Linked DNA regions of Homo sapiens: regions 1, 3 and 4 are each linked to region 2. The links come from fine-mapping of genetic effects on gene expression. A gene starts in region 2. Each other region holds a variant in brackets. All regions are shown on one strand. Distances are between the middles of the regions. Region 1 has its middle 120 kb from the start of NEDD9. Region 2 holds the start of NEDD9 (neural precursor cell expressed, developmentally down-regulated 9). Region 3 overlaps NEDD9 (neural precursor cell expressed, developmentally down-regulated 9). Region 4 has its middle 60 kb from the start of ERVFRD-1.

Region 1 (5,200 bases), 120 kb after region 2:
TGAGGAGGAGGGACTCCTTCCCAACTCATTCTATGAAGCCTGCATCATCCTGATACCAAAACCTGGCAGAGACACAACAAGAAAAACAAAACAAAACAAACAAACAAAAATAACCACTTCAGGCCAATATCCTTGATGAACATTGATGCATAAGCCCTCAGCAAAATACTAGCAAACCTTTCCAGCAGCCATCAAAAAGCTAATCAACCACAATCAAGTAGGCTTTATCCCTGGGACTCAAGGCTTGTTCAACATGTGCAAATCAATAAATGTGATGGGTCAAATAGAACTAAAGACAAGACCCACGTGATCATCTCAATAGATGAAGAAAAAGCTTTCAATAAAATTCAACATCCCTTCATGTTAAAAACTCTCAACAAACTAGGTACTGAAGAAACATACCTCAAAATAATAAGAGCCATCTGTGACAAACTCACAGCCAGCACATCACTGAATGGGCAAAAGCTGGAAGCATTCCCCTTGAAAACTGGAGCAAGACAAGGATGCCCTCTCTCACCACTCCTATGCAACATAGTATTGGAAGCTCTGGCCAGGGCAATCAGGCAAGAGAAGAAATAAAGGGCATCCAAATAGGAAGAGAGGAAGTCTATCTCTGTTTGCAGATGACATGATCCTATAGCTAGAAAACCCCATAGTCTCTGCCCAAACACTCCTTGAGCTGATAAGCAACTTCATCAAAGTTTCAGGATACAAAATTGATGTACAAAAATTACGAGCATTCCTATACACCAACAACAGTCAAGCTGAGAGCAGAACACAATCCCATTAACAACTGCTACAAAGAGAATAAAATACCTAGGAAACAGCTAACCACGGAGGTGAAAGATCTCTGCAATGAGAACTACAAAACACTGCTCAAAGAAATCAGAGATGACACAAACAAATAGAAAAATATTCCATACTCATAGATAGAAAGAATCAACATCATTAAAATGGACATACTGCCCAAAGCAATTTACAGATTCAATGCTATTCCTATCAAACTACCAATGACATTCTTCACAGAATTAGAAAAAACTATTTAAAAATTAGTATGGAACCAAAAAAAGAGTCTGAATTGCCAAAGCAATCCTAAGTTAAAAGAACAAAGCGGGAGGTAACACACTACCCAACTTCAAACTATACTACAGGGCTACAGTAACCAAAACAGCATGGTACAAAAACAGACACGCAGGCCAATGGAACAGAATAGAGAGCTCAGAAATAAAGCTGTGCACCTACAATCATCTGATCTTTGATAAAGTTGACAAAAACAAGCAACAGGGAAAGGAGTCCTGTTCAATAATGGTGCTGGAATAACTGGCTAGGCATTTACAGAAGATTGAAACTGGATCCCTTCCTTATACTATATACAAAAATCAACTCAAGATGGACTGAAGAGTTAAATGTAAAACCCAAAACTATAAAAACCCTGAAAGACAACCTAGGCAATACCATTCTGGGCTTAGGAACTGGCAAAGATTTCATGACAAAGATGCCAAAAGCAATCTCAACAAAAGCAAAAATTGACAAATGGGATCTAATTAAACTAATGAGCTTCTGCACAGCAAAAGAAACTATCACCATAGGGAACAGACGACCTACAGAATGGGAGAAAATATTTGCAAACTATGCATCTTACATCTGTCTAATATCCAGAACCCATAAGAAACTTTAACAAATTTACAAGAAAAAACAACGCCATTAAAAATTTGGCAAAGGACATAAAAAGACACTTTTCAAAAGAAGACATACATGTGACCAACAAGCATATGAAAAAAGCTTAATGCCACTAATCATTAGAGAAAGGCACATCAAAACTACAATGAGATACTATCTCACACCAGTCAGAATGGCTATTAACAAAAAATAAAAAAATAACAGATGCTTGCAAGATTGTGGAGAAAAGGGAATGCTTATATACCATTGGTGGGAGTGTAAATTAGTTCAACCATTGTGGAAAGCAGCGTGGTGATTTCTCAAAGGCCTAAAGACAGACATACCCTTTGACCCAGCAATTCCATTACTGGGTATATACCCAAAGAAATAGAAATCATTCCATCATAAAGACACATGCACATGTTATGTTTATTGTAGCACTATTCACAATAGCCAAGACATGGAATCAACCACAATGGCCATCAATGATAGACTGGATAAAGAAAATGTGGTACATACACACCATGGAACGCTATGCAGCCATATTAAAGAATGAGAGCATGTTCTTTGCAGAAACATGGATGGAATTGGAAGCCATTATCCTCAGCATACTAATCGGGAACAGAAAACCAAACACTGCATGTTCTTACTTATAAGTGGGAGCTAAATAATAAGAACACATGGATAGATGTGGGGAAACAACACACACTGGGAACTAACTGAGGGTGGAGGGTGAGAGGAGGGAGAGGAGCAGAAAAAACAACTAATGGGTACTAGGTTTAGTACCTGGGTCACCAAATAATCTATACAAAATCCCTCATGACATGAGGTTACCTATGTAACAAACCTGTATATGTACCCCTGAACCTAAAATAAAAGTTAAAAAAATAATCCTTGGCCTATCTAGCTTAGAGAGGCTCTTAGTTTGAAAGAGACAATGGATGGTGTGCAAATTGAAGGTCACATTATCCTTCTAGGCTGAGATGTTCATAGTTCACAGTTCTTCAGGAGCTGGCCTGGGCAATACAGTTTGATCTAATACACAATAAACTAATTGACAATTGGCTGTTAATGGCCAAAGAGTGCAAGGGTTATACCATTTACATGGCATATAAAAAAGGTACATATATATCTCCAATCTTTTCATGTACATCCAGTCCTAAGGAGGAAATTATTACAGGTACAGGATTTCAGTCTGACCTCAAGAGGCAACATCTTATGGGAAAAGAGGCTTTTGAACACTTAAGCCGTGGTTTTGACAATTGTCCTTTTGGCCATGCTCAAGGGTATACATACAAAGTCTTGTATCATCTGGGCAGGGCCAAAGATGCTACCACAGGCCACCATCACCATTACATAACTCATTATTTTGCAACTCTTGCCTCATCCAAACTGTGTTTTTCTCTCAGTTCAGTTTCTCTTTCAAAGGACCTGATTACAAATTGCAAAGGCCAGGCAGACCTG[G/C]GCAACCCCAAACAGAAGTCTCATCATCTGCTTTGGCAACTTCCTCCGTGACTAACTGTGGGAGCAGAAATACAGACTCACAGACTCTCAGAGTGGACAGGATCTTAGAGGTCGGCGAGCTTGGTCTTCCCTCAATGTCACTGGTACATCAACACAATGATTGGCTTATTGAGCCCCTACTTAGTGCCAGAGGTCATGGTGGGTGCTGGAGGGGATATGACTAAGACACTGAACAAGGCCCTGCCGCTGACCTCACAGTGGGGAGACAGGTGAGTGAGCAAGTGGTCGGGATGCCCTGATACACATAGCGTAGGTAAACACTCGGGGGCTCATGTCAGGGAGTGTCAACCAGGGTCGGGGGGTGGTCAGAAAGGCGTCTTGACAGAGGTGCAGTCTTTCCACACCTCCTTGTCTTTCTTGACATATAATCGACAAACACAAATTTATACATGGTAATGTGTACAACTTGTTTTATATATACATTGTGGACGCCACAATGATCAAGCGAATCAGCATTTCTATCACCTCACAGAGTTGCCATTTTCTTTTGAGAAGTGGATTCTTAAAGGGAGAAAAGAAGTGAGCTGGCAAGAGATTCACAGGTGGAAGGGAGATGTTCCAGGAAGAGTTTACAGCATGTGCGAGGGACATGAGCCAGAAAGGAAGAGAGATGGGAAGAAGGAAGGGAGAGACAGAGAGGGCCAAGTGACCAGGACCAGGACCAGGAAAGAAAGCTGAGCTCTTTGCATATTTAGGGAACTGCCAGGAGTCCCCAGGCTGGAATGTGAAGTTCAAGGCCTGGAGCAGAGGGAGCTGAGACTGGAACAGTAGGATGGACCAGTTCAAGAGGGGCTTCATGGAGCTGGGGCTTCATCCTGATGGGGTTCAGGACATATTGCCCCTGAAAATAGAAAATTGGCATTTGAGAAAACAGCAAAAGCAGAAAGGCCACTCTCACCTTCCCTTGTTCTACCCTTCTCTCTGAGGCCGGTCATCAGTCCCAGGAAGGATTTCCTGACTTTCCCCTGAAGTAGGACATTGGACCCTGGTGTGAGTGATGCCCGCATACTCAGAGGAAAGGAACATCCTTTTTCTGAAGACACAAGGACACAGAGGAGAATCTGAGCCAACAGATGTGGTGACATTCCCTCCAGGTTATCACCCGCTTTGCTCGGTCATGCCTCTCCATGACTGTCCACTCTTCATCCAATCGAGCATAGCAAATACACAGGTTTCCCTGTTTCTCTGGTTCTTCATTTCCCCTCAAAGGCTTCTGTGTCATGTAAAACTTATATTCTATGCGTTTGTATGTTCTTCTCTTGTTCATCTGTCCTTCATTATAGGGGCCTCAGCCATGAATCTAGCAGTGGGTGAAGACATCTTGCCAGCCCTACAATTCCAAAAGCAACAAAGGACTCTTGAGGGTTGTGAGCAACACAGTCATTGGGGAACACCAGATGGCTACTGAGGTTTCTCCAGTGGTCCACAGGTGCCAGCTTCTTTCACTGTAAGGTGGGTCAAGTGGTTCACCCGTGTGTGTTCAAGTGGGGCCCAGAGCTGCCTCCACAGGCAGGGTCCCTTTCCAGTCTCCCTGCTCTTTCATGGGCCACGTTCCCAACCTCTGAAGACTTTCTGAGCCTACCCTACCCCAAGTTTCCTTTTCTTCAGGGTTAACATGTCTAATCCCTTCTCCATTTCTCTAGAAAAGTGAGTTGTCTACACCACAGGCATTCCTTCAGCCTCTGGGTGTAGATGGAGCATACAGATCTTGTCCTCATGGGCAGTGTAGATGTTTACAGACACTGAGCCCACTTGATCTGCTGTTTCATGATCCAACTCAGACATTTGCTCTTTGGTTAACTCATTCACCCACAGCCGCTCGGTGGCCGGCCTTTTTCTCTTCTGTTTTGCCCATTCCCCTGAGAACATACACTTTTTATATTGCTTTGGTTAAGCCTCAAGCATAATCATTTGGTTTCTTTATACAGCTTCTTTCTCTGAAGCTAGGACTACCCTAGTTTAGATACCCTAATGTCCACCAGCAACATGGCATCATGGTAAGGAATGGTCCTGCCAG
Region 2 (5,000 bases):
TAGAGAGAAAGAAAACTTTATAAAAAAGGAAAGTGGATTTCTTCAGCTATTGGTTGATTTAATAGTCATCATAGGGCATAAGTCATGTGTTCGGTCGGAGAAGTTAGCTTTTTTGCTGGTGAAGGTGCCTACAAGGTAATAAAAATCATGTATTTACATCATTTGGCAAGGTGTTCAACACCAGTAAGGCCCAGTGGAGAAGCAGGTTTCTCCATGAATGCCAATCGCAGTTTACGCTGTCAGTCACTTTATCAGTTGCCTTTAGATTTTCTTTCCATAAAGAGTAAAGCTAACCACGATGAGATCATTGAATAAAAGTGACTTGAGACTTTGTCGCTTTCGTCACTTTCTAGATTATAGCACTCAATGTTAATTTCAGCCATTTATACTTTCCAATAATAGACATATGAACATACTTTCTCTTTTTTCTGCAAGCCAGTTCTTATTCAACAACAGGGAAAGGAGGAGCAAAAAAGTCACTCCAGGCTGAGTAATATCTGGTCCTATCATTGTTCTAAATAAGGAAATATGGGGTGAGCCACTTTAAGGAAGATAACTTTCCTGCCAAGTAGAGGGATTTGTTTCTGGTTGCATCCTAAAGTCAAATATTAATAGTCTTCAGGATGACCCTTTCCTCTGATCTTCCCTACTGATGAAGATAATAGAAAGCTGATGAAACAGAAATAGCTGATACCTGTGTCTTCAGACAGTGGTAACGTAGGCATTACTATAAAGACTTTTGACATTTAGACTTAAAGCTTTTGAATAAGATTCATAGTTTTTGAACAAAAGCTTTATTACTGAGGCTAGTCAGTGGCTATCAGTTAGACCAAGTATTTACAACCTTACATCAAAAAAGGATGGACCAGAAAAATTTAGAAAAAAAGCGAAGTAGCTTCCAGCTAGTGTACAGTTAATATAAATTGTCAATCCACAAGCCTAGCACCCTTGCCCAAATCCATCTTAATAATAACACTTTTGTTTAAAATAGCATAAAATAAAATAGTAGCACTAGCACTCATGTCTATTCATCATTCAAGAAAAATTCATGTCCAATTCATTGCAGTCTGCTTTCTTTGTGTCCCCTGGAAGCTGCTTGCCTCCTTAGATGGGAGTGACTTAAAAGAAAAAGGGGAGGGGGGAATATACGGAGCAAGTCAAAAATCCTTTTGGCAAGAAAAATCCACAAACAATGGTGTAAAATGCATTGGAAAATAATGCTGCTGAAGTACTATGACTATGACACTCTGTAAGCTTTCAGGCACAATGAGCCAGCCTGAGCCTTCGCACTCTCACCCCATTCAAACTCCAATAAAAATGTTTTCAAGAAATGGCTCATACTTATTTATTCCTACATCCAATATAACATAAGGATGTCAAAATTTTCCATCCTCAGCTGTGTAATCTGGGCTTTTAATTTCTCCCACCAAAAGTGCATATGGCATACTCCTTCCGAGACCAAACGATTAAAGCAAAGTCTGGAAAACTTTGCACTAAGAGCCAGTCTGAGACAGACTATGCAGTCCTCATTCCTCTCATTACAGTTCCCCAGGGCAGTGGAAGCCAGGCCTGGGGAAGCCAAGGAGACTTGAGCCAATGCCTGCCGCGATTCAAGTCAGACACCCTCTGATCTCCAGTGGCTGCTGTGAAGCGGCTCCAAGTCTTAACTTCTCACCGAGGTATTTCCCCGGCAACTTTCAGAGCAGATGGACTCGGGTGTACTGTGAACCCCTGGAGTGGGTCTCAAAGACCGGGTCTCTGCTTGCTTGTCTGCTTGCATGTCAACCTCAGTGACCGAGACTCATCTTAGAACTCTCCGGGACACACAAGGGACTGACAGTAAGGAACACGCATACACAAGCACACACCCGCAGGCACAGCTTTCAGCTTGCAAGGTAACCTGTAAAAGGCACTCTCTTACCTTATACTTCATTTCGGCAGCGGTGGGTTGAGCCGTTTTCCTACACTAGTTAAGACAGCATTAAGCACTGCGGTGCCCGCCCCTCCATTGAGTGCAGCGCTAGATGAAAGCGAGAAGGTCCCGGGCAGAGCCGCTTGTCAGTCGCAGCGCCTCCCTCAAGTCTCTGAGCTCACTGTTGTGACTGAGGCAGGCTGATCGCGGACCTCATTTGCATGCCGCCCCGCCATTGGCTAGTGGGACAAGGTAATGCTCAGGCCCTGCCCACCCCTAATTCTGAAAAACTGACAAAGAACTTGTAATGTGATCGCTTCTTTTTGCTTTATCAGACGGTGGAAAATAAAACAGAAAGTGGGGAACCGTCCTGAACCTTACTCTGTCCTCCCGCCCCCGCCAAAAAAGAAGACAGAAAGAGAAAGAACAGGAAAAGGAGATACATTCTTTTTAAGATTAACCCAAATTTTAAAGAAACTGAATTCACAAAAGCAGTCTGACAGTCGCGCTTCCTGTGACCTAGCAACTCCTTCATAAACCCATTTCGTTTCAAAGCCATTCACCTCACAATCTCTACATGAAACGAACTCCGGGAACAAAAGGTTTTCTGTCTCCGGGCCCCTTTTTACTAACCACCCCTGCTGATACCTCTCTCTCTCTCTGTCCCTTTTTCTTTCCCCCTCCTCCCGCCTACTTTTTGTGTGTGTGTGACTGTTTGCTTTTTTTGTTCTTTTCAACGTTCAAAGTACTTTGCGATGTCAGTCTGCAAGGAGCTGGAAGACAATTCTCCCTTAGTGAAAAGGAACCCTCTAGCACACGCACCAGCGTTTTCCTGGACAGCTTCTCACCAGGGCCTCAGAGTTGCGGGTCACACATATTGAGCGACCTTCAGTGGCTTTGCTGAGGATAAAGGTTAGATGTGACCTCTCGGATGGGGTTGGCCAGTGCACGCCCTATACATCATCACCGTCCACTGAGTTCTGTGTTCTTTGACGGCTGGCATTTCTAGCTCCAGCTTTGAACACTGCAGTGTTTTTCCTTCTGACCTCTGTCCTGAGGATGACCCATTAACCCACCAACACTTATTATCCAGGAGAACGAAAATGCCCACTGTTTGATGAGCCTGGTTAAAAAGACCAGTCTCTCTCCAGCGAAGCACAGAACATAATTTCTATAAAGGTTCCATTTTAGGATTTCTATAGAGAAAGAGAATCACCCAGAAAACAGAAATGGTCACCTTCTGCAACTCTTCTCACGGACAGAGCAGTGAGGCGAAAAATTCCTTTTTCCCGGGCAAGACTGAGACTCGGTGAATCCAGACAATAGCTGTCCCTGAGTGGGATGCACTCCAACCAGACTACATGACTTGGATGGAAAAATCAGCCCTTATTTTTTTTTTTCCTGACCAAGTTGGATCAGAATCTGATTCCCTTCGCGTCTAACACACAAATTCCCAATGGATGAAAACTCTACTTTTATGATCTAAGCAAAAGGAATGAGAGAACAGCTGTCCTACAAAAGTGGTTTCCAGATACAGGGTTGGCAGGTTAGTTTGCAGTTCAGTGTGGCACTGATTCCAGGGACATGACCCCCCAGGCCATCCTAATGAGGTTGACATACCTGTTCCAGCCTGTATTAGGCCTTGCTTCTCCTCATTTGTCCTTAGAGCAAAAATAAGCCTGAGTGATTGTGCAAGGCCTTTCTGAACACAAATTAAGCACGCAGCATATTGCATTGTAACGATCTCCTTAAGAATCCTGCAGACTGACCGGAGAGTCGTTAGTTTGCAGGAAATTGTTTTTGGTGTCTACCTGGATAAAGGAGGACAATGATTCAAAGCCCTTCCCATCTGTAAGATGAGTCTTGCGGCCTCCAAGAGATCTAGATAACATTCCTTTGGCTTCCTAAGTGGTCAAGCTGAATCCTTTTTCTGTTTTGTTTGATGAATATCATTGAGTAAGTGAGTGCTGTCCCATCCTATTTTAATGTTTTCAAACAGTTTCCTAAAGTTTGTGCTGGGGTTTTTTTGTAATTTCATTCTCTAGCTAGTGGCCCTCCTGCTTTCCTGTTTCTGTCCTGTAAGGTAAGTAAGACACATGTAATCTACCCGAAGTTCATTTCAAGAAGGCTTGGGTCAGTATATAGTTAGCTGCCTAAAGGAAAGCACAAGGGTGTTGGAATCAGGTAAACCTGTGCTGGAACCTCAAAACATTTTTAATTTTTTTTTTTTTTTTTTTTGAGACAAAGTTTCATTCTTGTTGCCCAGGCTGGAGTGCAGTGGTGCAATATCGGCTCACTGCAATCCCCGCATCTCTGGTTCAAGCAATTCCCTCAGCCTCCCGAGTAGCTGGGATTACATGTGTCTGCCACCATACCTGGCTAATTTTTTGTATTTTTAGTAGAGACGGGGTTTCACCAGATTGGCCAGGCTGGTCTCGAACTCCTGACCTCAGGTGATCTACCTGCTTCAGTCTCCCAAAGTGCTGGGATTACAGGCGTGGGCCACTGTGCCTGGCCAGTTGAACTTCTTAATTTTGATGTCCTTCAGTATGAAATAGAGAAAATAATAATACCTGCTAGCCTCATAATGAGGATTAAATAAGATAATGTGGATAGAATTTAATAGTACTTGTTACATTGTAAGACCTTAAATGGTTGCTTGTTCTTATTACTGTTGTTATTAGTTATTATTTTAATTAATATCAGATTTATGATATTTTGTTAATATTTTATGACATTATTGCTATATTCTATAGATTATTATTTAATTATTGTATTAATTATAACTAGTATTAATATTAGACTACTGTTGATAAGTGTGGTAGGCATTCAGAAGAAGTTGGAGGAACCCCTTCTCTGTGTGCCATTCTTTCATAAGGCAGCTTTCTCACTGAACTGTTATCACTAGAGCACCTAGCATGTGCCAGGTACCTTTCTAGGAGGGGAGGATACAGCAGTAGCCCAGACAAAGTTCCCATCTTCATGGAGCTTACAGTCTAGTGAGAGTTGAGGAAAATAATTAAATGAATGTATAATATGATTTGCAGTGATAAATGCTATGAAGAAAAATTAAGCAGGGAAAATTGCT
Region 3 (5,200 bases), 26 kb before region 2:
CAGAAATTTACTACTTTTATAATTTCACAAGTAAATACTCTCAAAGAAAGTTACTTCCTTATATGAGAGCCACAACTTGAAAGCTGGGTAACTTGTGTTTTGGGAGGTGCCCCCACCTGGTTAAATGAAGTTACCCATTTGAAGGAATTTGAAGTCATTTGGAAAGACAGTCTTAGGCCAGGCGTGGTGGCTCACGCCTATAATCCCAGCACTTTGGGAGGCCGAGGTGGGCAGATCACGAGGTCAGGAGTTTGAGACCAGCCTTGCCAACGTAGTGAAACTTTGTCTCTACTAAAAATACAAAAATTAGCCAGGCATGGTAGTGCGCACCCATAGTCCCAGCTACTCGGGAGGCTAAGGCAGGAGAATCACTTGAACCCAGGAGGCGGAGGTTGTGGTGAGCCGAGATTGTGCCACTGCACTCCAGCCTGGTCAACAGAGGGAGGGTCCGTCTCAAAAAAAAAAAAAAAAAAGAAAGAAAGAAAGAAAAGAAAAGGAAAGAAAAGACTTTTCTGTGTGGCAGAGAAAGCCAACATAGCAACATTCTCAGTGGTACTGGAGTCTAGACATCACCCTACTGACCTGGTCAGGACTCCTGGATCAGCCCACTCTGAAACTGCCCACTACAGCTAGGTGGGGGGAACTTCCAAGCTCCTTAATTCAGATTCCCTCAGTATTGAGGCTACTCCCTGGACCTGAGGTGGGAGCCCTGGGCAGCAACTTTAATTCTTCCTGGCCAACAGGGTATGATTTAGCGCCCAAATTGCTAATGAGGTGTCCAAATATGCCTTCTTCTTTAAGGGCTTGGCAATATCATCCTTCAGCCGGGATGTAAAAATCATTAGCATTGGAGTCAGACAGACGTGGGCTCAAATATCAATCCTGCCTCTCACTGGAGGCAGCAAGTTAACTTCAGCAAGTGAATTTCCTTCTCAGACCTCAGTTCCCTCCTCTGAACAGCAAATGCTGTGAGGTGCACCTCACGAGGCTGTGGAGAGGATCAGGTGGTAGTACCTCTATGGGATCCCTAACATGGAGCCAAGGCTCAAGGCGCCTTGGGGTCACCCCCACTTTAGTTCTAACACTATCTTGCAAAATGAGACGGAAGCATGGGGTAATGACACCAGTGAAGGCTGCACATTCAATTGGTAGTGACTTTGAAAACAAAAACTATTCCAATAAATAACTGGTTTAAGTGTGCCATGCTTTAAGAAAACCAAGTATTACAAAAATTAATCAAATAAATCAGAGGCGATTGTGGCATTGCTAAAGGCTTCTTTGCTTCAAAAAACTGATATACTGTAGGATCCCTTTAAAGAGAGGACTCCTTGGCACTCTTCAAATGTTACTGGAGTTACATCCTACTTTTTTTTTTTTTTGAGACAGAGTTTTGCTCTTGTTGCCCAGGCTGGAGTGCAATGGCGTGATCTCAGCTCACTGCAACCTCTGCCTCCCAGGTACAAGCGATTCTCCTGTCTCAGCCTCCGAAGTAACTCGGATTAACAGGCATGCACCACCATGCCTGGCTAATTTTTTTGTATTTAGTGGAGACGGGGTTTCATGGTATCAGTCAGACTGGTTGCAAACTCCTGACCTCAGGTGATCTACCCACTTCGGCCTTCCAAAGTGCTGGAATTACAGGCATGCGCCACTGCGCCCGACCTACATCCGACTTTTGAGGAACACACATTGTCCTATGTGAGTGGCACTGACACACTTTAAACAGGAGCAGCACATCTCTCTAGAAGTTATCTTGACAACGTTTAAGGCACAGCTAGTTAGAATGAAGTGCTTTTGATTGCTGACAGTTTCTAGTTCTGCATTTTGCACAATGTAGTCAAGCAAGTCTTTTTTTAAAGATTTGTACAACCAGGCCGGGCGTGATGGCTCATGTCTGTAATCCCAGCACTTTGGGAGGCCGAGGTGGGCAGATCACCTGAGATCAGGAGTTTGAGACCAGCCTGACCAATATGATGAAACCCCGTCTCTACTAAAAATACAAAAATTAGCCGGGCAAGGTGGTGGGCACCTGTAATCCCAGCTACTTGGGAGGCGGAGACAGGAGAATCGCTTGAACCTGGGAGGCGGAGGTTGCAGTGAGCCAAGATTGCGCCATTGCATTCCAGCCTGGACAACAAGAGTGAAACTCCATCTCAAAAATAAAAAAAAAGATGTGTTCAACGAATATTGTTTATCATGAAATTAAATAAATAAATTTATTCTGTTTTCTCTCTCTCACAGTGTTCTCCTACTTAGCCAGACATCATATTAAAGCAGTCTCTTACCTCTTCACTCTGATAAGCACAGTCATTTAGCATGAAATCATTGAAAAAGGAGGGTTAACCTCTGTTTGCTTTGGTGTGGGTTTATAAGAAGTTACTAATGCACTCTTAGAAATATGCATTATCTATAAAATTTAGAACGAAGTGCAACTGAGTTTGAAGGCTTTGGCACTGGCCAAACAAAAAGGACCTTTGTTAATTTTTAAGGAGGGGTGTTAGAGTTTGCTCATTGCTTTGGCTCGGGTGACTTGTCTGAGAAAAGATAACTTCTCATTTTCAAAGTGAGCTCATAAAGTCCTGCCCTTCAAGAGCTGAATGACCTCCAGTTTTGTGTAATATTAAAATGTATCTTGAAACTTCAGGGGTGACATTTTAGATGGCAAGTACAGTTCTCTGCATAGCCCCAAAACCCATGTATCGAGGCAAACAATTCATATACATTAGGATTATCTTTATGTAGAAATGTACAATTCTGGAACATAGTTGTACTTTATTGATTTATAAATGAGGAAACCGAAGTACCCTCTGCCCTAGGAGTATTTTTTGGGTGTGTACGTATTTTGTGTGTGTATAGGCAAGGAACAGGAGAAAGTGAGGTGAAGTCAGAATTTAACTTTTCTGGAAGCTTTCATTTCCTCTAAACCTATTTTTTGCTTGTTGTTAGACAAGTCATGCTGCTAATATATAGCACTTAGTTGGCTAGTATCTGAGTGTCGCTCTGGGCAACCAGATTGCACAATGCCTCAAATTCCAATAAGGGAAGTCCTTGTTCCTTAGCCAACAGCTTATGGGTGTCTGTGTGTGTGTATGTGTATGTGTATGTACGTGTATGTGTGTAATTTGTGATGACTCAGTGTCTAGGAAGGTACAAACATTGTAGCTAATCTATTTCTGTTTCTTACATTAC[C/T]TTTCAGGAATGGGCCTGGAAGACCTGGCTAAAACCTTTGAATCATTTCCTGCCAACATTTGGCCGTGACCCATTTTGGAAGGTAGAAAATGGTCCTTAAAGATGATGTCATAGGATCTTGGTAAATCTGAATATTACTTCAGTTTTCCAAGTGCCACCTCAAAGCAATACTTACCCCAGTCCAGACCATCACACACATTGCAATGGCAGACCATTCCATTTTTAAGAAGCCCTTGAGATCAATGGAATATACAACACATTCTGGGACCATAGGGAAGGGAGAAACTGCTGGGTTGCAGAGAGGAAGCTTCATGAGGGGGATGAACCTTGGAGTGGGTTTTAAAGAATGGATAGGAGTTCACAGGGAAAATAGAAGGGAAAGGCATTCTAGGTAAATCATAACATATGCAAAGGAAGTTCTGCCCCTCAGTAGAAAAAGTTAGGCCAGGCGCAGTGGCTCATGCCTATTATCCCAGCACTTTGGGAACCTGAAGCGGGCATATCACCTGAGGCCAGGAGTTCAAGACCAGCCTGGCCAACATGGCAAAACCCCGTCTCTACTAAAAGCACAAAAATTAGCCAGGCTTGGTAGCGCATGCCTATAGTCCCAGCTACTGGGCAGGCTGAGGAATGAGAATCGCTTGAACCCAGGAGCCAGAAGTTGCAGTGAGCCGAGATGGCACCACCGCACTTCAGCATGGGTGACAGAGCGAGACCCTGACTCAAAAAAAAAAAAAAAAAGCCTAGTTTTCCTCCTTAGGTGACCACAGAGGAGTTAACTAATCTTGTCTAAATTGGGCAAAATGCACAGAAGTTAAACTCTCAGATAAGCCCTTCTTTACATCACTCATGCTTTGCATCAAGGTGCTCATTGATTGTATATGAATAGTTACCCTTACAGGACACAGGCAGTGACATTCTGGAAGGTCCTTCAGCGAGGGAAATGACTGTATATAATCTGACACCTCTCATACCAGATGGTAATGAGCTGAACCATGGGATTCGAGCAGCAGCGTGTGAGGGTGGATGTGTGATAAGATCAGAACCACCTTTCAGTTAATTAAAGGTTAACTCTCATTTAACACTTTGATTCTTGCTTCCACCTGTTCATTGGTTCACTGGGCTGCTATCTGTGGGCTGATGCTCTACCAAGTGCTCAGCCTACAGCAGTCAGGAGGCAGCCATGGCCCCTGTGCTGATGGAGCTTGTAATTTAGCCCCAAACTGATCTTCAGAAAGAGGTACAACAAATAGTTCCAGCAGTTAGAATAAAAGCGACACATCCAAAGAAAAATCAGAGAAGCACATATAATTTCCCATGCAGATCAACTGTGAAATGGATGAACTCAGGTAGCAATTTCACTGATCTTTGAAGCAGAGAAATGAGACTATTTTAGATCTTTTTAGGCTTTTGGTTTTGAACATTTGTAGATTTCATTTACCCCAAACCATAATCCCATATTAAGTAGAATTTTTGCTGTTAAAAATTGAAAACTTTTTTTCTTCCTTTATAATTCAGTTTTTCAAATTATTCGACTATGAGTAACTTATTTAATTTAGGATTGCCTGTGGGTTCTTGGCAACCATGATGCATATTTAGAAATCTTTGCAAAGTGAGAAAAATATAACCTACATACTGTTTTCTAATATGATGAAATAGTTATAAGCCCTAAATAAAACAATTAATGGGGCAGACATGATATGGTTTCCTAGACATTGACCTAAATGTTTATTAATTTCTATTTTGCAGTTTTTGTGTTTCATATTTTGGAGTCAAAAGATCTTTTATTCAGCTCCCAAACATTCTTATAGGCACTGGGCATATTGCCTACAACGCCTAATGGATAAAACGGCCCTGTGCACAAAACACAGAGTGAAAAAGACCAATGAAATTAAGTAAAGGTGTCAGCGTATATGGTTTTCAGATAACTTGGAGAGTTTTTTTCCACCCTTTGCAGAATTCTTGCAGAACCAAAGAGAAAGCCACACACTCAAAAAACACAGCATATGTG
Region 4 (5,200 bases), 62 kb before region 2:
GGCCTGGACCAGGCTCCAGGTAGAGTATTTCGGGCTTGGATGTTTTCAGGCACCAATAAGTCAAGCTTGCATTGATGATATTACAAAGTGGCAGAGGTGCCTCCTGAATGAAAAAGAAATGGAATCCTAACCCTGACTTCTGTCTTTGAGGGTCAAACATATAAAAACATGTCTGATGCCGGATTTCTGGGAAGGGCATTGGTTTCTGGAGGGGAGATTGATAATGGCAGAGATGGAAGTCTGGGCCAGTTTCACACCAGAGGCAGGGGGAAGTTGCAAGGAAAGATTGATTTAGGGTGTGAAATTGCCAACAGATGAAGTTGTTCCACCTGGCACCCTGGTGGTGGATGTATATGGAAGAAAACTTGCTATGAGCCGCAGTTCTGGAGCCCCTCCCTTTCTACTGTGGAACATATTGGCTCAGCACACGGAGGAGCAGAGCCCATGCTTCTTTATACATTCAGAGAGCATCAGAGCTCTCACATGTGGCTAATCACATGTAATCAAAGATAGTAGCTAAAGGCTGGGCGCAGTGACTCATGCCTGTAATCCCAGCACTTTGGGAGGCTGAGGTGGGCGGATCACTTGAGGTCAGAAGTTTGAGACCAGCCTGGCCAACATAGTGAAACCCTGTCTCTACCAAAAATATTTTTTTAAAAATTAGCTGGGTGTGGTGGTGTGCACCTGTAGTCCCAGCTACTTGGGAAGCTGAGGCAAGAGAATCGCTTGAACCCTGGAGGCAGAGGTTGCAGTGAGCCAAGATCGTGCCACTGTACTCCAGTCTGGGCGACAGAGTGAGACTCCATCTCAGGAAAAAAAAAAAAAAAAAAGATAGTAGCTAAAAAAGAGAGGATGAGGAATAATTTTGAGGAATAATTTAGGTAGAAAAGATGGTATGGAGAGAAAATGTAAAACCCAGATGGACCCATAAGTTACTAGTTACTGATATTGGGCATCAAATTTGTCTCTGACCTTTACAGTAAAGGAAAACATGATCAGTTAATTGCAAAAATCTTGTTTCCATGAGAAAAAGCATATCAATTACTCAGGACAAATGAAATATCCCCTGATGCTTAAATATGAATACGTTTGCCTATAATTTGCTCATTGATCATAAAACTTTTCTTTTGTTTCGCCTTCTGTCCATTTTCTCTATAATTGTTGTTTTGCTTGCTGGTGCAATGGTTGAAAGGCCTATAGATGCTGTAAGTGCTGAAGATCTGAGGATGAGGATCTGAGGATGAGGATGGGATGTACTGAAAGTGTTGGGTCATGTTGACAGAGAGCATGGGGTGATTAACGTCACAGTCATCCCAAACCATGGATTCTAAATCTAGGGACAGGTTTTGGCCTGGTTACAGCAACTTTGCAAAGGAGTATATTGCAGCTGAGATCACCCGGGGAACTATGAAACAAGCAATAAAACAAAAGATCTTCAAGGAACACTGAGAAGGGGACTTGTAGGGATCTGCTGTGCAGCGCAAATCCAACCTCAGGAGCTTACAGCAGAGAAATCACATAGACATTCAACGAGAACAACCAAAGTTACTAAAGTAATTGTGGAAAAAGGTTATATAAAGGGGAAACAATACAACAGTAACTCATGGGCACTACATCCTGCCTTTTGAAGGAATTTTATTTTTAGTTATTGTTAAGGATCCTGCAATGTTCTTTTTCCTTTAAAGGGCTCCTCCAAGCCAGGCGTGGTGGCTCACGCCTGTAATGCCAGCACTTTGGGAGGCCGAGGCAGGCGGATCACTTGAGGTCAGGAGTTCAAGACCAGCCTGGCCAACATGGTGAAACCCCGTCTCTACTAAAAATACAAAAATCAGGGGGACGTGGTGGCAGGAGCCTGTAATCCAAGCTACTCGGGAGGCTAAAGCAGTGAGGAGGCACAAGTTGCGGTGAGCCGAGATGGCGCTGAGAGGTGACAGCCTGCTGGCAGCCCTCACAGCCCTCGCTCACTCTCAGCACCTCCTCGGCCTTGGCGCCCACTTCGGCGGCACTCGAGGAGCCCTTCAGCCCACCGCTGCACTGTGGGAGCCCCTTCCTGGGCTAGCCGAGGCGGGAGCCGGCTCCCTTAGCTTGCAGGGAGGTGTGGAGGGAGAGGGGCGGGCGGGAACCGGGGCTGCGCGCGGTGCTTGCGGGCCAGCGTGAGTTCCGGGTGGGTGTGGGCTCGGTGGGCCCCGCACTCGGAGCGGCCTGCCAGCCCCGGGCAATGAGGGGCTCAGCACCCGGGCCAGCGGCTGCGGAGGGTGTGCTGGGTCCCCCAGCAGTGCTGGCCCAC[C/T]GGCGCTGTTCTCGATTTCTCGCCGGGCCTTAGCTGCCTCCCTGCGGGGCAGGGCTCGGGACCTGCAGCCTGCCATGCCTGAGCCTCTCCCCCACGCCCGTGAGCTCCTGTGCGGCCGAGCCTCCCCGACGAGCGGCGCCCCTGCTCCACGGCGCCCAGTCCCATCGACCACCCAAGGGCTGAGGAGTGCGCGCACACCGCACGGGACTGGCAGGTAGCTCCACCTGCGGCCCCGTGCGGGATCCACTGGGTGACGCCAGCTGGGCTCCTGAGTCTGGGCGGGACTTGGAGAACCTTTATGTCTAGCTAAGGGATTGTAAATACACCAATCGGCACTCTGTATCTAGCTACTCTTGTGGGGACTTGGAGAACCTTTGTGTCCACACTCTGTATCTAGCTAATCTAGTGGGGAGGTGGAGAACCTTTGTGTCTAGCTCAGGGATTGTAAACGCACCAATCAGCGCCCTGTCAAAACAGACCACTCGGCTCTCTGTAAAATGGACCAATCAGCAGGATGTGGGTGTGGCCAGATAAGAGAATAAAAGCAGGCTGCCTGCACCAGCAGTGGTAACCCGCTCGGGTACTTTTCTGTACGGGTGTCTTTCCACGCTGTGGAAGCTTTGTTCTTTTGCTTTTTGCAGTGAAGTTTGCTACTGCTCAGTCTTTGGGTCCACACTGCCTTTATGAGCTATAACACTCACTGTGAAGGTCTGCAGCTTCACTCCTGAAACCAGCAAGACCACGAACCTACTGGGAGGAACGAGCAACTCCAGACGGGCAGCCTTAAGAGCTGTAACACTCACTGCGAAGGTCCACAGCTTCACTCATGCGCCAGTGAGACCACAAACCCCACCAGAGGGAAGAAGCTCTGAACACATCCGAACATCAGAAGGAACAAATTCCAGACACGCTGCCTTTAAGAACTGTAACACTCACCGCGAGGATCCGCGGCTTCATTTTTGAAGTCAGTGAGACCAAGAACCCACCAATTCCGGACACAGCTCCACTGCAGTCCAGTCTTGAGTGTCTGAGGCAGACTCCGTTTAAAAAAAAAAAAAAAGGATCCTCCAATGTGGGATGGGGGTGGAGGAGCTTGGAGGTGGATTCATTCCTTTGGGTTCAGTTAGCCAGTCAACAAACATGAATTGAACTCTTTGTGTTAGTTAGGTAGTGAGATGGGAAAGATGAACTCATGGTCCAAGATGCCCTGTGTCTGAAATATACAAGAGGCTAGGGAGATGTGCAGCAAGGAAGTAATCGTACTGCTACGTGGTTGTGGAGCGCTTAAGAATTATTTTGAATGCTTATTTTCACAACAGCGAATCAGGTCTGCACTAGCATTCCTATTTCCCAGGCACGTTAGAGATGAAATCGGTTGTAAAAACCAATTGTCCTCCACCTTTCATTTCCCATCAGACCACAAGGGGGCGCCGTGCGAGGCGAACACAGCCTTAGATCTGCAAAATGCTGGTCGCTGCGTGAGGGGCTTCAAAACATCCTAGGTGGTGCCCAAAGACCTTGTTGCCTGAGCTGAATAGGTGCTAGCTATTTGCACTGTCAGCGCTCTAAAGGATTTCTGGGGGCCCCCTTTCAACGGGAAGCCACCTGGTACGTGTAAACACCCACAAGTTCACTCCCCTTTGCAAGGGGCAGAGGACCTAGTAACTTTTCTCTAGAGCGCTCTCCTCTGCATACAGGTCCCTACATGTCCCCTTCTCAGTGCTCTTTGCAGATCTTTTGTTTTCTTGCTTGTTGATTTTTCTTTTGCAAACAGGATTGGGGGACCCATTATTTATCCAAAACCTTCTTTTGTCAAATCGTAGGTCCTTTCCAGTGTAGACTGGATGTCTAGACAGAGAGGTAGAAATAATTGCCCAAGGGCAAGGACAGCCTTCACTAAGTTGTCCATTTACATCTTTACATCATTCTAAAAATACACCCACACCAGCCCTTTGTCTTGATATTTTAACATTGGGCAAGGCTGAAATAAGTTACTTCTCTGACCACTGTTTAAAATGTCTCATTCACAACCATTGTTCTTGGAGACTTCAACTTCTTTAATAGGAATTTAAGTCACAAAGGGCCCAGATGGTTCTGAAAAAAAAACCCGTTAGGCTGCCTGGGTCATAAAGAAGGCTCATAAACTGCGCTTGGATGATGACTGGGTGAGGGGCTGTGTGGGGGATAGACAATGTCTGGTGTCTGGTGGTCTCCTGACTGCCAGGCAGGCCAGAGAAAATTAGGGGTATGTTTTCATTTAACATCATTCCCTGCTGACTCTTGTCTCTCTGGAAAATTGACAGTTAGGAGACAAAGTAAGGTGCCCTTTTTGTTAACTCAGTTTTCTTAATTATAGTTGTTGGGAGATGACTTAAATCATGCTGTGAGGTATGGTGGTGGTTCCTGCCCCTCAATGCCCCCTCCCAGGCTGCAGAGGAATTTGCTTTAGAGATTGGTAATAGTTGAGTCTGAGATGAAGGTCAGTCAGTGTGCTGAAGCTTTTCAGTTGCCCTTGTAGAGGTTTCTCCCCCTGCAGGCTGGCCTCTACTCATTAAAACCTTTTCTTTCTTTCTTTGTTTCTTTCCTTCCTTCTTTCTTTTCCTTTTTCTTTCTTTCTTTCTTTCTTTTCTTTCTCTCTTTTTTTCTTTCTTTTCTTCTTTCCTTCGTTCGTTCGTTCTTTTTTTTTTTTTTTTTTTTTCTGAGTCTCACTCTGTTGCCCAGGCTGGAGTGCAGTGGTGCGATCTTGGCTCACTGCAACCTTCGTCTCCCAGGTTCAAGCGATCCTCCTGCCTCAGCCTCCTGAGTAGCTGGGACTACAAGCTCCCGCCACCATGCCTGGCTAATTTTTGTATTTTTAGTAGAGACAGATTTCACTATGTTAGCCAGGCTGGTCTTGAACTCCTGACCTCATGA

The links. PIP is the estimated chance that this variant, and not a neighbour inherited with it, causes the effect.
Region 1: its variant is fine-mapped to the expression of NEDD9 in whole blood (TOPMed, PIP above 0.99).
Region 3: its variant is fine-mapped to the expression of NEDD9 in whole blood (TOPMed, PIP 0.98).
Region 4: its variant is fine-mapped to the expression of NEDD9 in whole blood (INTERVAL, PIP above 0.99).

What each region holds. Positions count from the first base shown.
Region 1 is chr6:11,347,389-11,352,588 of GRCh38, forward strand. It overlaps a transcript of NEDD9 not described here. Among named protein-coding and RNA genes, the nearest start is that of NEDD9, 120 kb to the left of the region's middle. The variant G/C (reference allele first, on the strand shown) is at 3,124.
Region 2 is chr6:11,230,583-11,235,582 of GRCh38, forward strand. It overlaps NEDD9 (neural precursor cell expressed, developmentally down-regulated 9), which reads right to left and starts at 2,086. Exons shown (of 7, transcript NM_006403.4): 1 at 1,922-2,086. The coding sequence starts at 1,933. It overlaps LOC124901256 (a long non-coding RNA gene), which reads right to left and starts at 128. Exons shown (of 2, transcript XR_007059449.1): 1 at 1-128. RefSeq lists silencers at 1,594-1,643, 2,124-2,173.
Region 3 is chr6:11,204,265-11,209,464 of GRCh38, forward strand. All of the region lies in intron 2 of NEDD9 (neural precursor cell expressed, developmentally down-regulated 9), which reads right to left. Among named protein-coding and RNA genes, the nearest start is that of NEDD9, 26 kb to the right of the region's middle. The variant C/T (reference allele first, on the strand shown) is at 3,190.
Region 4 is chr6:11,168,972-11,174,171 of GRCh38, forward strand. No RefSeq gene overlaps it. Among named protein-coding and RNA genes, the nearest start is that of ERVFRD-1, 60 kb to the left of the region's middle. RefSeq lists an enhancer at 3,585-3,879. The variant C/T (reference allele first, on the strand shown) is at 2,288.